Linked DNA regions of Homo sapiens. The protein of the gene in region 2 purifies or fractionates together with the protein of the main gene of each other region. This does not show direct contact. Each region holds a gene or a part of one and is shown on either strand. Other genes may lie near its edges.

Region 1 (3,500 bases), on a different chromosome or scaffold from region 2:
ACACATGCACACAACATTCTCTCCTTAATTTTATTATGCAGGTACCCTAAATCCATATCAGCACATGTTACAGGAATTATATGGATAAAAGATCATTAAAAAGTGAAAAGTTTTCACATTGCTAGTGACAAATTAGCATATCAGGTAAAAATTAATAAATCTAGAAAATGTTTAATTATAGCAGCATATGAAAATTAAATTGAATTAACAATTGCACTGTGGTTATACAAGATGTTAACATTTGCGAAATCTGAGTGAACAGAGTATATGGGAATTCTCTGAACTATTTTTATATCTATTTCAAAGTTTAATTTTAAAACTAAAAAGTTAAAAAATAAAAATTACAAAATTAAAGCTTAAAAAGTCACTGATAAGAGACTGAAATATATGGATAATAAAAAGAATAGAGGAAATGACTTAAAACTTACATCAACACGGAAGTCTTCTAACCTCTTAAAACTACAGAGGTATTCCTGAAGTTTTGGGTCAATAGACTGTGTCTTAGATTGAGAATATTTCAAATAAGCCCAAAACTTTTCTAGTCCATACAGCTGACCTAATAACAAAGAATAATATACATTATGAATTATATGAAATTTTAAAAATTATTCACATTAAATATAATCCTATCAGCAATAAACAATTTATCTTCCAATATATGCTTACTCTAGATCTTGAGAATAAGACATGTAATGAATTAACCAATAATGGCAGCTAATATTTATTGAGCATTTGTTATGTAACAAGCATTAAGTGCTTTATTATGCATCAAACTAATTTGAACCATATACAACCCAAAAGATGGGTGTTCTCATATATGTTACAGATGAGAAAACTGAGGCTAGCAAGGGTAGGCAATTTACCCACAATCACATAGCTTCTAAATAGTGGAAAGGGAATTTGCACCTAGCAGTCTGTCCCAGAGCCTGCACTCTTAACCACTGTGCTATTTCTGCCTTTCCAAGCTTACCTGCTGATGTTGCATAGAATTTTCATGTAACGGAACATCAGTGAGTAGCCACGTTTGTCAAAGGGATAATGACAAAATATACCTCCATAAAAGAAAGACTTGAGAGTAGTTACTTTCCAACACCTCCCAGGAAAGGCCTTCTTACTACCTGGTGCCCCATCCTTCATCAAGAAACACAACAATAGCATGAAGATCTTAAATGGTTTGCCCTGAAGAAAAAAACTATGAACTCCTTCCCTATTTACTGACAGACTCAGGTTTACAATTTCCAATTAGAGTACAAGTTTTCTGATGTTATTGTTACCAGATTCGTAGTCTTTTTTGGTTTCTTCTTGGAAATCCTGAAAAATTTCTCGCCTGAATTTTTTTTCCAGTCCATAACTATAAAACCTGAACAGACATTCTAACCCATACCTATAAAGAGAAAATAAAAGGTTTATAATAAAATACAATATCTCTATAGTTAGTAACATCAATATAAGCAAACATGGCACAACTAATCCTAAACAAAAAATAAAATTTTAGCATTCAGATTTTTTAATTATTTTTGAGACAGAGTCTCACTCTTGTTGCTCAGGCTGGAGTGCAATGGTGCGACCTCGGCTCACTGCAACCTCCGCCTCCCTGGTTCAAGCTATTCTCCTGCCTCAGCCTCCCGAGTAGCTGGGATTACAGGTGCCCACCACCACATCCAGCTAATTTTTTGTATTTTTAGTAGAGACGGGGTTTCACCATGTTGGCCAGGCTGGTCTCAAACTCCTGGCCTCAGGGGATCCATCTGCCTCGGCCTCCCAAAGTGCTGGGATTACAGGTGTGAGTCACTGCGCCCGGCCGGTATGCAGATTTTTAACTGAACTGGTAATTAGTAATCTACAGCTGGCTTTGCTATTTTTGTTGACTCAGCCGTAGCACATCATGAAGGTATACTGAGAACCTGCTGCATGAAAGGCAGCCCTTGGACAGTTCAGTATGACCTCTTTAGATGCACACATTATCTCTCCCTGGTATTTCTGAAGAACTGGCCAAAAGATTTAGTGATAAATTGGGGATGTGTTAGATTTTCCCCAAACCAAAATTTATAATGGTATCTTTGTACACAGCATTAAATAAATACTCTTGAATGTAAGCTTTACTCTAGGAAGATAAAGACTGTACGGCTGTGCCCTAGATCCCAGGTGTGGCTGTCCCATTCAACTATAATGGTACAAACATAATTAAATGGTTAAGAGAGCCTCCCTGCTTTCATTATAAAGTACAATTAATAGTAGATATATTGCTAATAGAGCTATAATCACTACGTAAATGAGAAAACAAATTTCCTTGTTTCTGTCTATAACTATCTTGAGAATCTAGGAGTTCTGCTCAGTAGATCAGCAAACTATATAGGCTCAACCTTCAACCACAGGTGATGAGCAGAACCCATGAGAGTGAAACAAGGCTGTAAGATGGCAGCAAAAAGACCTTGTCTAGCTGACTCAACTAAAAGATACCACAATTAAAACACTCCTAAGTTAGAATCCTAAGTCATTCTGGGTACCTCAGCAGAAAGGTTACAACCTCTTCATTCTGCTAACATAATATTAACTGGCTGTCAGTCACAGGAAGCAGGGTATGTGATTGTGTGTCTCTTTTGCAACCAGCTTATTTACAAGACGAAGAGTGATGGTCTGGCAAGCCAACAAGAGAAATGCAGGACTGCCAACTACACACTTATACAGCAACCTGAGCCCTTGGCTCCCATAGCCTTAAGTGATGCTACTGGTTGAGCTTGCATGACTGAAGTCTAAGGAGATCAAAGACTAAAGGAACCACAGTTCAGAATGACAAACTTGCTTTGATGTTCCTCTTATGGGATCATATACCGACATCAGTTGTTCTCAATCTTAGCTACACATTATAATCATCTGGGGAGCTTTTAAAAATACTGATGCCCAGGCTCTGCTCCAAACCAATGGAATCAGGATCTTTTTTTTTAATTTTTAAAATTTTTGTGGGTACACAGTGGGTGCATATATTTATGGGGCACATGACATGTTTTGATACAGGCATGCAATGTGAGATAAGCATATCATTGGGAATGGAGTATCCATCCCCTCAAGCATTTATCCTTTGAGTTACAAACAATTCAATTATACTCTTTAAGCCATTTTATTTATTTATTTTTTAATTTTAATTTTTTTTTTTTTGAGACAGAGTTTTACTCTTGTTGCCCAGGATGGAGTGTAGTGGTGCGATCTCGGCTCACTGCAACCTCCACCTCCTGGGTTCAAGTGATTCTCCTGCCTCAGCCTCCCAAGTAGCTGGGATTACAGGCGCCTGCCACCACGTCTGGCTAATTTTTGTATTTTTAGTAGAGATGGGGTTTCACCATGTTGGCCAGGCTGGTCTTGAACTCCTAATGTCATGTGATCCACCTACCTCGGTCTCCCAAAGTGCTGGGATTACAGGCATGAGCCACCACGCCTGGCCTCTTTAAGCCATTTTAAAATGTACAATTAAGCTACCATTGACTATAGTCACCCTATTATGC
Region 2 (3,500 bases):
AGAGAAGAAAAGTGGAATTATTGGCTATATATATATATTTTAATTTTTTTGAGACGGAGTCTCACTGTCGTCTAGGCTGGAGTGCAGTGGCATGATCTTGGCTCACTGCAACCTCCGCCTCCCAGGTTCAAGTGATTCTCCTGCCTCAGCCTCCCGAGTAGCTGGGATTACAGGAGTCCACCACCACGGCCCAGCTAATTTTTCTATTTTTAGTAGAGACAAGGTTTCACCATTTCACCATGTTGGTCAGGCTGGTCTCAAACTCCTGACCTCAGGTGATCCACCCACCTGGGCCTCCCACAGTGCTGGGGTTACAGGTGTGAGCCACCAAGCCCAGCCTATATTTTTGGATTGCATTCTACAGGAAATTAAACTTTTGAATTTTTTCACCTTCATACTTCCAAGTTAATAGAATTAAACCAGAATACTCCATTCTTTCAAAGCCTCTACCCAGGCAAAGTTTTACTGTATTGCTTCTTGCTTTCAATGGACATGAGGCAGAGTCCTGGTAGGCACATTGTGTTACCTGCAAAGATGCAGAACTAAACAGTTCCATCTGTTCAATATTAAAAACAAAAGTCCTCAAACCTCAGATGGTGAGGGTAATACCTCAGTACTAGCAATAAAGCCTCAAATATGAAAAGATACCAAGAACACCACTAGCAAACAAAAGTAAGCTCTCGGCTGGGAGCAGAAGCTCATGCCTACAATCCCAGCACTTTGGCAAGCCAAGGGGGGAGATTACTTGAAGTCGGGAATTCAGGACCAGCCTGGGCAGCATAGCGAATTCTTATCTCTACAAAAAATTTTTCAAATCTGCTGGGCGTGGTGGTATATACCTGTAGTCCTAGCTACCTGGGAGGCTGAGGCGGGAAAATCACTTGAGCCCACGAGTTTGAGGCTGCAGGAGCTATGATCATGCCACTGCACTCCAGCCTGGGTGACAGACCAAGACCTAGATAATTACATTCTGCCCTACTCCTGTTTACACTAAAATCACTAAGTTAAAATGCTTTCATTCAGCCCAATAAAAATAAAGTGAAATGTGACTTTGGAGCTTGGCTAGCAAAAAAAGAAAGAAAAAATAAAGCAAAATGACAAATTACTTACTGGGAGACAGTTTTGGTAACCTCAATGACAGATAAAAGGTTTGTATCCCTAGCCTATAAAGAAATCTTTAAAATTACTCAGAAAAAGAAAAATGATAAAAAAGATAAAATTATTTTATAATTTTATAAAATTACTCAGAAAAAAACAAATAATGGAGAAATAAGGCACTTCCCACAAGAATAAAAATGGCCAATAAGCATATTAAAAAGACTCAAAAGCACTAGAAATTAAAGAAAATGTAATTAAAACAATGAGATTTTCTGCTTAAAGACGAGCAAAGATGACAAATGGAAGGGCGAAACTGGAACTCTGTCACTGTTGGTGGGAGTATACACTGAACCCATTTTCCTGCAGGATAATTTGAAAATTTCTATTAAAAACCCTAAAACTGTTTTTTTGTTATTTTCCTCCAGAAATTCTACTTCTATGAATTCCGTCCAAAAATGCTTGCTCAAGTCCATTAAAATGTATATATAAGGAAATTCACCTCTGGAGTGGCAATGATTCACTTAATATATAGCCAGCTATTAAAAATGATGATGCCAGGATATATTTACTGCCACAGAAACATGCCCAAAATATAATGTGACAAAAGACTATATTTTATGATTCTACTTTTAAAAATGTTTATATGCATAAAAAAGTATAAAAAGCAGCAAACCAGAATGTTTTGAGTGGCAGAATTAAAGGTTTTTCTTTTTTTTTCTTTTTTTTTTTTTTGAGATGGAGTCTCACTCTGTCACCTAGGCTGGAGTGCAATGGCGCGATCTTGGCTCACTGCAAGCTCCGCCTCCTGGGTTCACACCATTCTCCTGCCTCAGCCTCCCGAGTAGCTGGGACTACAGGTGCCCGCCACCACGCCTAGCTAATTTTTTTTTTTTTTTTTTTTTGTATTTTTAGTAGAGACGGGGTTTCACGGTGTTAGCCAGGATGGTCTCAATCTCCTGACCTTGTGATCCACCCACCTTGGCCTCCCAAAGTGCTGGGATTACAGGCGTGAGCCACCGCGCCCAGCCTAAGGGTTTTTCTTTATATTTTGTTAAATTATTGTAAAAAGAATGTGATTTCCTTTATAATCAGGGATAAGTGTTATTTTCATTTATTTTTACATTTCTTTTCTTTTTCTTATTTTTCTCATGTATGTACCCCATGTAGGCTAGAGAGCTTGACTCCTTGCCTCTTGAGGTGAATCAGCCCATTTTCGGGATGTGCACTACACAAAGCTGCCCCATATTCCTTTTATTTTACAAGTTCTGGAAACATTTTTGTTTTAAATTGTTTTACTCTTCTCATTTTTTAAAATATATGAAATTGAGGAAAAGACAAAGGAAAGGCTGATTCCCCACCTTCCTGGGGCTACTCTTCCAATTTTTGCTGCTATTGCTATGTATTAATATTCTCTGGGTACTAAAAAGATGGGCAGCCCCATAGAACCTTTTTTCTTATCTCGTTCTCATAATCCCACTTCATTCCTTCATTCACTTATTTTTAAAAGGGTAATGTGCGCAAATACATAGTTCAAAAATATTTAAAATATAACTATCTATAAATGTATGTGGCAAAATCCCATTCATAGTCCTATTCTCCCTCCACAGCCAAACACTTTTAATTGGTTTCTTATTATCATTTCAGAAGTTATCTCTGCAAACACACGTATATTCTTACTCTACTCTTCTCTCTCAACACAAAAAGTAGCATACCATATACACTATGCCATCCATATACCATTCCTTGTTCCTTTTTTAAAAACACACACAATATCTAGTTCTTCCACATGAGTACATAGGTCTTTCTCATTCTTCTTTACAACTACACAGTATTCCATCATTTGGATGTACCATAGTTTACTTAACCAGTTCCCTGATGGCAGGCACTGAAGTCATCCCTATCATACTAGCACAAACAATGATGCCAAGCATAACCACCTACACACACCAAATTCATTTCCGAAGGTGCCTCTCATGAGGCCTCTATTTAAATTACTGCAAGCCCACATGGTCACTAGGCTGAAATATTAGCCCCTTTTTCAGTTTTCATTATGTACAGCAGCACGTAACAAAAGATTCCCTTGGACAAAGCAAATGTACTCTTTGGGGATTTATTTCATAAAAATAAAGGGATAAACAGAACAGCTAGGATGAACCATTTCTATTTAACCATGCATATGTATGTATACAATACATGTATATGCATAGAAAGTATACAATAAACCCATCAAAGCACTAACCACTGTCTCAGTATGGTGGATCTGTGGAGTGCTTTGTAGTCCCCTGCTCCTTGCCAATCAATTATTTCTAATTTCACAACAGTGAATATGTACTATTTCTGCAATATAAAATGTTTAAAAATGTTAACTCAAATTAAGGTGGATAAATTCCTTCAGTCTGTCC
Region 3 (3,674 bases), on a different chromosome or scaffold from region 2:
AGTTGTGATTTTTGCTAAAGGGCAGAGTACATGCTTCAGATTGAACAGTGGGGAAGAGACAAGTGCATAAGATGCCTTAGAAGCTCCGAAGCTATAGTAATCAGATCTCTTAGTTATGTGAGAGAAACTCAATCTGAAACAGTTTAGATGAAAAGGGAGAATTCATTAGAAAGGTCATGTTACCATGGGAAAGGCAGAGGTCCAGCCAGACTGAATGGTAACAGAAACCAGGAACTTGAACATCACAGGGCTTTGCTTCATCTCCATTTGTACCCATTATCTCAGTTTGCATTTCTTTACTTGAGACTAAACAGAGTCACATCTCCCACCTTCATGGCCATAGAGGGACTGAGAGATGAACACTCAAAAAATGTTAATTATTATTAAGGCTTGACTTAAAAAAACTATAAGATCTATATATCATTCAGTGGGCTCAAGTATCTCTTAAAAAGTTGCCAGATTCTGAGCCATATAATGAAAGAAAAGTATTTACGAACATGTGTCTTACAAAGGACTTTAATACAGTATATATAAAGAACTTTTACAACTCAATAAGACAAACAATCCAATTAAAAGTGGGCAAAAGATTTGACAGCCACTTCACAGAAAATATACAACTGGCCAAAAAGTACCTTAAAAGATGCTTACCAGCATTAGTCACCCGGGGAAATGAAAATAAAACCACAATGAGATACCACTAGATTCCCATCAGAATGGCTGAAAACTGAGTGTTGGCAGTTGGAACTCTATACAACCCTGGTGGGAATATAAAAGGGTATAGCCCCTTTGGAAAACAAACAGTTTGGCAGTTACTTTATTAAACATAAATCTGCCATGCAACCCAACCATTTTACTGGTAGGTATTTACCCAAGAGAAAGGAAAACCTATGTCTACACAGTGGCTTGTACACAAATGTTCCTAACAGTTTTATTCACAGTAGCCCCAAACTGGAAACAATCCCAAGGTCCATCAACAGGTGAGTAGAAAAACAAATAATGGCATATTCACATAATGGGACACTACTCAGCAATAAAAGGAATAAGCTACTGATACACTGCAACCTGGTGAATTTCAAAGTCATTGTGTGTGAAAGAAACCATAAACAAAAAAGTACATGCTACACAATCCCATTTATATAAAATACTAAACACCACCACAAAGCAAACTAATATATGGTGACAAAGACAAATCAGCAGCGTGAGGGATGGACTGCAAAGGAACTTGAGGAATCTTTTGGGGGCGATGGAAGTGTTCTGCATGTTGATGGTGACAGTGGCTTCATGGCATATACATCTGTCAAAATAACCATTGAGTTGTAATTCTAAACAGATACAGTTTACTGTAACTTGATAAAGCTGAATTTAAAAAGCTGCCAGAGTATTCTGAAATCATGCCTTCTTTTCTCCCTCTGGACCAAGCACCCGCCCAAGCAAGCCAACTTTAACAAAATTATCTCATAGATTTTGGATTTTTTTTTTTTTTGCCATGTTAAAGTTGTATTAAGTTTCAATACAAAACATTCCAAAAAGTGAAAAGTGATCTATAATACCCAAGTTCTATGTTCAACTACCACTTAAACAAGGAAAACATTTTCTAATATCATTCTGTTTTACAACCAGTATAAACCCAGAAGAATCAAGATCTGATTCTTTTTCCACACGTCTGCTAGTTCAGTAAACTATTTATCAAACAGGTGTCTGGTCATTTTAACATACTCCTTGCTTTGAACAATATTCATTCATATTTGGTACAAACTCTATATCCTATATTTAGGATATCTAAATATTTTAAATATTTAGGATATCTTAAGAGCCAAAAGGTCCTCACAGAAGCTTTAACCCAAGTAATCATAAGAATATGGAAGGATTCGGCTAAGACAACTATGGAAGTGTAACAACCACATAAATTTGGTCATTACCCTTGTGGTCTGTGATTAGTAGTAGTCTGCCAAATGAGAGTTAAAAATGTTGTACTTACTATCCCTAGTTGCAAATGTTAAAACATGACAGTGCCATAATTACAACAAAAAAAATTAGAAGTTGAGTTAGTTCCTCTAATCCAACAACTCAAGTCTGTTTCCTTTGAGAACATTACACTATTGGCTCTAGTCTCCAAAGCAATAAACTAAAACTTGTTTCCAAGACGGGGAGGTAAAGCAGGCTTATAAAACAATACAGCAAAAGAAAGCCAAGTGGCCCAATTGTTTCCAGTGTGTTTGCCATCTTAGCATGGTTGTTACTTTCCAGATGTCACTCATAAGTTTTATTCTACAACTAAACTGTTTGTGGATAAGCCACCACAAAAAAATGTTTCACTTACTGACAAGACACTTCACCAGATAGAGCTACCACTTATATCCATCATTTTTATAATTCATCTTAAGTTCTAAATTGAAGAGTTGTCCCCATGACTTTAGCTAAACAAAATGAAACCCAAAGCTGTAAAATCTGTGTAAAGGACCACGAGAACCTCCTGACTACCTCCACTTACCAATTTCCTTAATTACTTCCCCTTTTCCATTTGGTCAATTACTTAAGTAACTACCACTCACTCCCTAGTTATGAGTGTTAATCAACACTGATGCCTTCCTGAGATCCACAGGAACCCTTGAAGGCAAAATCTATTGCCTGCACCAAACCAATTCTGACAGCACTGCTTATGCAACTGCACTGACTTACCAACAATCAGCCGCCTTCTGCTTCAACAACTCTTAGCATTTGATTTCTCTTACTGCCAGCGTTATCTACTGTGAATCAATCAGCACTCCACAAACATAATGAGCACAATCTTCAACCATCTTTGCTGTTTCACAGGCATTTGATGCTTTAAATCTGATGTGGAATGCTGATAGATTCACTTTTTAGAAGTCATAAGCCTTTAGGAAGTTGGAGATAAATTCATTGCTTATCTATTTTCTCCTTTGCAATCAAGCTGTTCCTTTAAAAGTGAGACATTAGAGTTGCAAAAATTTGAAAGAGTAAGAGCAAGCACCTTTGCAGCTTCATGGTTGGTTTTGGCCAAACTTTTTATTTAGTATTCCGTAGTTGTTTAGCACACACTTAAATGGTCTTATTGTGGGAGGGGAAAGGGGAGGTTCTTGCAGATTCCCAAGGAAATGTCAGAAAGGCAAAATGGCCAGCATTATCCATTTGCTTTTTTTGGGTTTACTGGGTGAATAGCACTTTCCTTACATAGGCATCTGATTTCAGGTTTTGCATACTGAGAACAGTGAGATTTCAGTTAGAAAACACCCTGAAATCTTATGAGTAGCATACTCCAACCACCCTCTAATAGCTAGCTTGTTTGTATAGGCAGAATGATTCATCTCTCCATTTTAGTTGGCTAGATGTTTTGTGGAAGATCTTAGAATTGCTTGCCTCATTTACTGGGAAAAACCAGATAGGAAGTGGTCTTTAGGGACACCTTTACTTGGAAAGTTACAACACTAGTACTACAAGGCTTAACACATTTAACATTTGCTTGTTGAAAAGCAATGTCATAAAGTCAAATAAAATTAAACATGTTTTACTTTTTTCCTCACAAGAACATAAAAATTACGGAAGGGACTTAACAGGGAATTTAAAAAAGGTAACACAATTTTTCCTTTTAGTAGTCCTTGGGTAGTTATGATAGAATAGTTTCCACTCTTTTTTTTGTTTCTTTGAACTGGGAT
Region 4 (4,095 bases), on a different chromosome or scaffold from region 2:
AAACAATATAAAAGAGATTTTAAAAGTTTTTAAACAGAATTTCTATAATCTGTATGTATGATTTTCATAATATTAGCATCTGGTAAAAATTTAAGATAATATATTAAGCCATATAGGTATGAAGAGATTTAAGACCAGGCCAACTTTGGATCACCTGAGTTGATAACAGATTTATAACTTAAGGAATGTAGAAGTTAAGGTTTTACAGTGCAAGTTACAATTTAGATTAACTAGTAAGTACCTGAATTATAGTCAACTAATGGAAAGAACAAAACACATAAAGCCAGTTTTTAGGCAACATTAAAAACTTCCATCATCTTAATTTAAACCATCCGAAAAACAAGCATGTCAGGATATAAATTTAAAAGAAATTCAACTATATCTGACTATTTTAAGCATTAATTCAAAATGAAATTAGGTCTTTAAATTCGTACTATAAATTTCTAAAAGTTTGATTTCTCAAAACTTGGATGAAAAATTAGAAAATTTCTGTTGGTAAAAATACTTTGGAATCTTTAGTTGTAAGAACTATTTTGAGCATATTTTCATAGAAGAAATTAAAGCTAGCAATATTACTAAAATAATAAATATGCAATAAATTCAAATAATTACCTCATTTCATTTGGTTCAAATGTAAAAATATATCTATTTATACTTATTGCTATGAACATATCAAAATAAGAAAAATGTGCAATATTAAAATTAGAAAATGTGCCTCTGTAAAATGAACTAAGCTCCATCTATTTTTCCACAAAAGAAAAAAAATGGCTTTGTATAAAAAACGTTTTATCATAAAGTTTACTAAACTAAGCACCCATCATGTGGAATATGAAATTTACTGAGGTCAATTCAGGCAGAGATCACTATCATTCTCCCACCTGCTGCAGATACTAGCTGGAAAGGTACGTTTTTCTTTCCTAGTGTCTCTGGGCCAAGGCAATGCTAAGAGGTTTGGAGCCCAAGATGCGGCCATTCATCTCAGTCATTGCTTTAGTAGCATCCTCAGGAGAGGAGAAGCAGATCAAGCCAAACCCTTTGCTCTGCCCCTCTTCCTGCATTACCTTAACTCTGCTAATTGATCCAAATGAAGAAAATTCGTTTCGTAGTTTTTCATCATCGATGGTGTCATCAAGGTTCTTAATATAGAGTTTTACCCCCTGGCACCCACGAATTCGTTCCCTTTTCAGCTGCTCAAACATTTGCTTTAACTCAGCCTGTCGCTCGACTTTCTTTTGAGCCCGGCCTACAAAAATCAGCTGCCCATTTATGTCCCTTCCATTCATTTCTTCAACAGCTTTCTTGGCAGCCTCATGGCTATCAAAACTCACAAAGCCAAAGCCTTTGGATTTCCCACTGGAATCTGTCATCACCTTAACACTCAGAGTTTTGCCATATTTGCTGAAAACGTCCTTCAATCTCTCATCATCCATGTCACCTCCAAAGTTTTTTATGTAAACATTGGTGAATTCACTGGCTTTGCTTCTGAGTTCAGCTTCACGATCTTTTCGGTTTTTGAATCTGCCAACAAACACCTTGCAGCCCTTGAGTAGTTTTCCATTCATCTCCTCAATGGCCCTGTCTGCAGCACTCTGGTTCTGAAAGTGCACAAATGCATAGCCCTTGGAGCCTTGATCATCACTCATCACCTTGGAGGAAAGGATCTTTCCAAAAGCTGAAAAATGTTCATAAAGGGTTTTGTTATCGATAGATTTGTCCAGATTCTTGATGAATACGTTCCCAATTCCAGATCTCCTCAAGTAGGCATCGCGCTGAGACCACATGAGACGGATGGATTTGCCTTTTATGATGTCAAAGTTCATTGTGTCCAGCGCCTTCTGGGCATCAGCCAGCTGCAAGAAGTTCACGTAGGCATAGCCCAGAGAGCGGCGGGTGACCTGGTCCCTGCAAATGCGGATGGACAGCACAGGCCCCACAGTGCTGAACTTCCTGAACAGCAGGTCCTCGGTGACATCTGCATGTAAGTCACCCACATACAGGGAGGCCATGCGGTACTTGGCTGCTACATTCATCTCCTTGTCCTTGCCACTGTGAGTTTGTCCCCTGGAGTTCTTTGAGCAATCCCTGTGGGGGGATACTAGGTCACAGCTTTGGCCCGGTTCAAGTGTGGAGGCCTCGGGATCACCACACAAAGGCCAAGCAATGGAGTTCAGACACGACTCCCCCAGCTCAGGCAACACCCTCATCCAAAAGTCCCCACAGCCACCAATCTGGCCCTCCTAGGACGCGGCAACAGAACTGTGAAATCGCAAAGAGAGATTATTAGGACAAGACGTTCCTTCCCCTCAGATTTGTGAGAAAACTTCAAGTGGCGGGCTGGCCCTCCATCTGAGCATTCTCCACAGACGCCCTGGTCGCTGGTTTCTGAATAAAAATAGGCCTCGCTCAGAGTGGTTTAAAGTTACAGCCGCTCAGGGAAGAACTCCACAAGCGGAGGCGTCAGAGGCCCCAGCCGTGGAGTATGGGCTGCGAGGTTCTGCCCGGCAGAGACCCGAACCTGCCAGGTACCGGGTTCTGCAGGCGCCGCCGCCGCCGAGGCGCTGCCGGCAGCGACGCGGGCCAAGGGCGTCCTGAAGACCTAGGGGGCCCCTCCGACCTCCCGACCCGCGCGGCGCCCGGAGAAAGGAGGCGTGGGGGAAGGGGAGGCTGACAGACCGACGGACTGACGGACGCGGCGAAGCGGGCGGCCAGGCGGGGGCTGGGGGCTCACCGGCGGTCGTCTGCGGGCGGGCGGGAAGCCCGGAACTCGCGCGCTGAACTTCCCGCGCACTCGCTGCCAAGTGGGATGTTTTCTTTTTAATATTTTTTTTAAGAACGTTTTTCTTCCCCCCGCCCCTATTACACGTTTCCCACCCTCCTCAGATGGCTAAGCTGAGAAGCAGGAGGCGGTGACTGGGGTGGAGAAAGGCAGCCGAGGGGAGTGGCCCCAATAAACCCACCCGCCCGCAGGGCTTTGCATGGGTCTGAGTGAAGGAGCCTTTCCAAATGTGGATCAGGGCCTGTCACTTCCTGGCTTCAAACCCTCCAGTGGCTTCCTTTGACTTTTGGATAAGGTCCAACATCCGCACCTTGTTCTATAAAGTTCTGCAGGATTCCTGAAATGTTCCAGCCTCAACTGCTGCTTAGTTCCCCTTACAAAACTCCAAGACACACTAGCGTTTTTCAGAGCCAACTTTATAAAAATGTGTTCTTCGGAAATGAGTTAAAATGCTCTTTCCAAATAGATGTTTTTTCTAAACCCCTCTGACAATTTAGGTTTCCCTCTTAGAAACTCTAACACTACCCTGTACTTGCCGGCTTTTGTCTAATTACAAAATATTGCATATTTCGTAACAATAGAAGCCATGTGCACTTTATTCTCAGGGACTTGCAGACAAGGGATGTGCAGTATTTATTGAACAAATCTTAGCCTCAGGTTAGTTTTCACATCTAGTTAAATGGAGGCGGTGGCACTTATCTTAGAGAGTATTTTACGTGTGAAATGAGTTAATAGATTTGGAAATGGATAACACAATATCAGATACATAAGTGGTTTCCAGTAACAATGATTTCATTTTCTTTAGCATTAAATAAAATTCTTTAGTATCTAATGAATCCTTAAAATTTGAATCATAATGCATCTTAGAGAGTCAATAAGTTACTGTCACGGTAGCATGACCTTGATTCTCCAAGAGTGCCAGAACCTATGAAATTAACCTGTGGTCTCAGTTGTACTTGTTTACAGAAACAAAAGCCGGGCTGGATGCCAGTAGCCACAAACAAGCCACGAGATAAAAACTCAGCTTGGCAGTGCTACTCAGACAGACCTGAATCCTCACTTCCTTATCATATTAAAATCTCTGCCCAGTGGGGAGAGATGCCCTTTGCTAGGCACATATAGTAAGTGCCCAGTGCAAAAGAAAGAACAAGACTGCACACATTCTAGTTTTCTCTGGAAAGTCCCACCTCTTTCCAGGAATTCGCATCCTTAGTCTCCACCTTCATGCTCTAAGAGACCTTAAAAATCCCCCTTCTGCACACACCTGGGGAAAAGGTGAATGGGAAGCTCACCTTCTCTACTCTTTGAACAACAAATAA

What was found.
Region 1: the proteins of PAIP2B (region 2) and LARP1B purify together in Homo sapiens (affinity purification with mass spectrometry; one large-scale study listed by BioGRID and IntAct). This does not show direct contact.
Region 3: the proteins of PAIP2B (region 2) and RBMXL1 purify together in Homo sapiens (affinity purification with mass spectrometry; one large-scale study listed by BioGRID and IntAct). This does not show direct contact.
Region 4: the proteins of PAIP2B (region 2) and PABPC4L purify together in Homo sapiens (affinity purification with mass spectrometry; one large-scale study listed by BioGRID and IntAct). This does not show direct contact.

What each region holds. Positions count from the first base shown.
Region 1 is NC_000004.12:128,204,312-128,207,811, reverse strand, and holds part of LARP1B (la-related protein 1B), read right to left. Parts: intron 1,385-3,500; coding exon 1,275-1,384; intron 557-1,274; coding exon 429-556; intron 1-428.
Region 2 is NC_000002.12:71,217,104-71,220,603, forward strand, and holds part of PAIP2B (polyadenylate-binding protein-interacting protein 2B), read right to left. Parts: intron 1-3,500. UniProt on the Homo sapiens protein: Inhibits translation of capped and polyadenylated mRNAs by displacing PABPC1 from the poly(A) tail.
Region 3 is NC_000001.11:88,978,956-88,982,629, forward strand, and holds the end of RBMXL1 (RNA binding motif protein, X-linked-like-1), read right to left. Parts: 3' UTR 501-3,674; downstream 1-500.
Region 4 is NC_000004.12:134,198,990-134,203,084, forward strand, and holds the start of PABPC4L (polyadenylate-binding protein 4-like), read right to left. Parts: upstream 2,801-4,095; 5' UTR 2,729-2,800; exon of another isoform or gene 2,257-2,728; 5' UTR 2,205-2,256; coding exon of another isoform or gene 2,031-2,204; coding exon 918-2,030; 3' UTR 1-917. UniProt on the Homo sapiens protein: May bind RNA.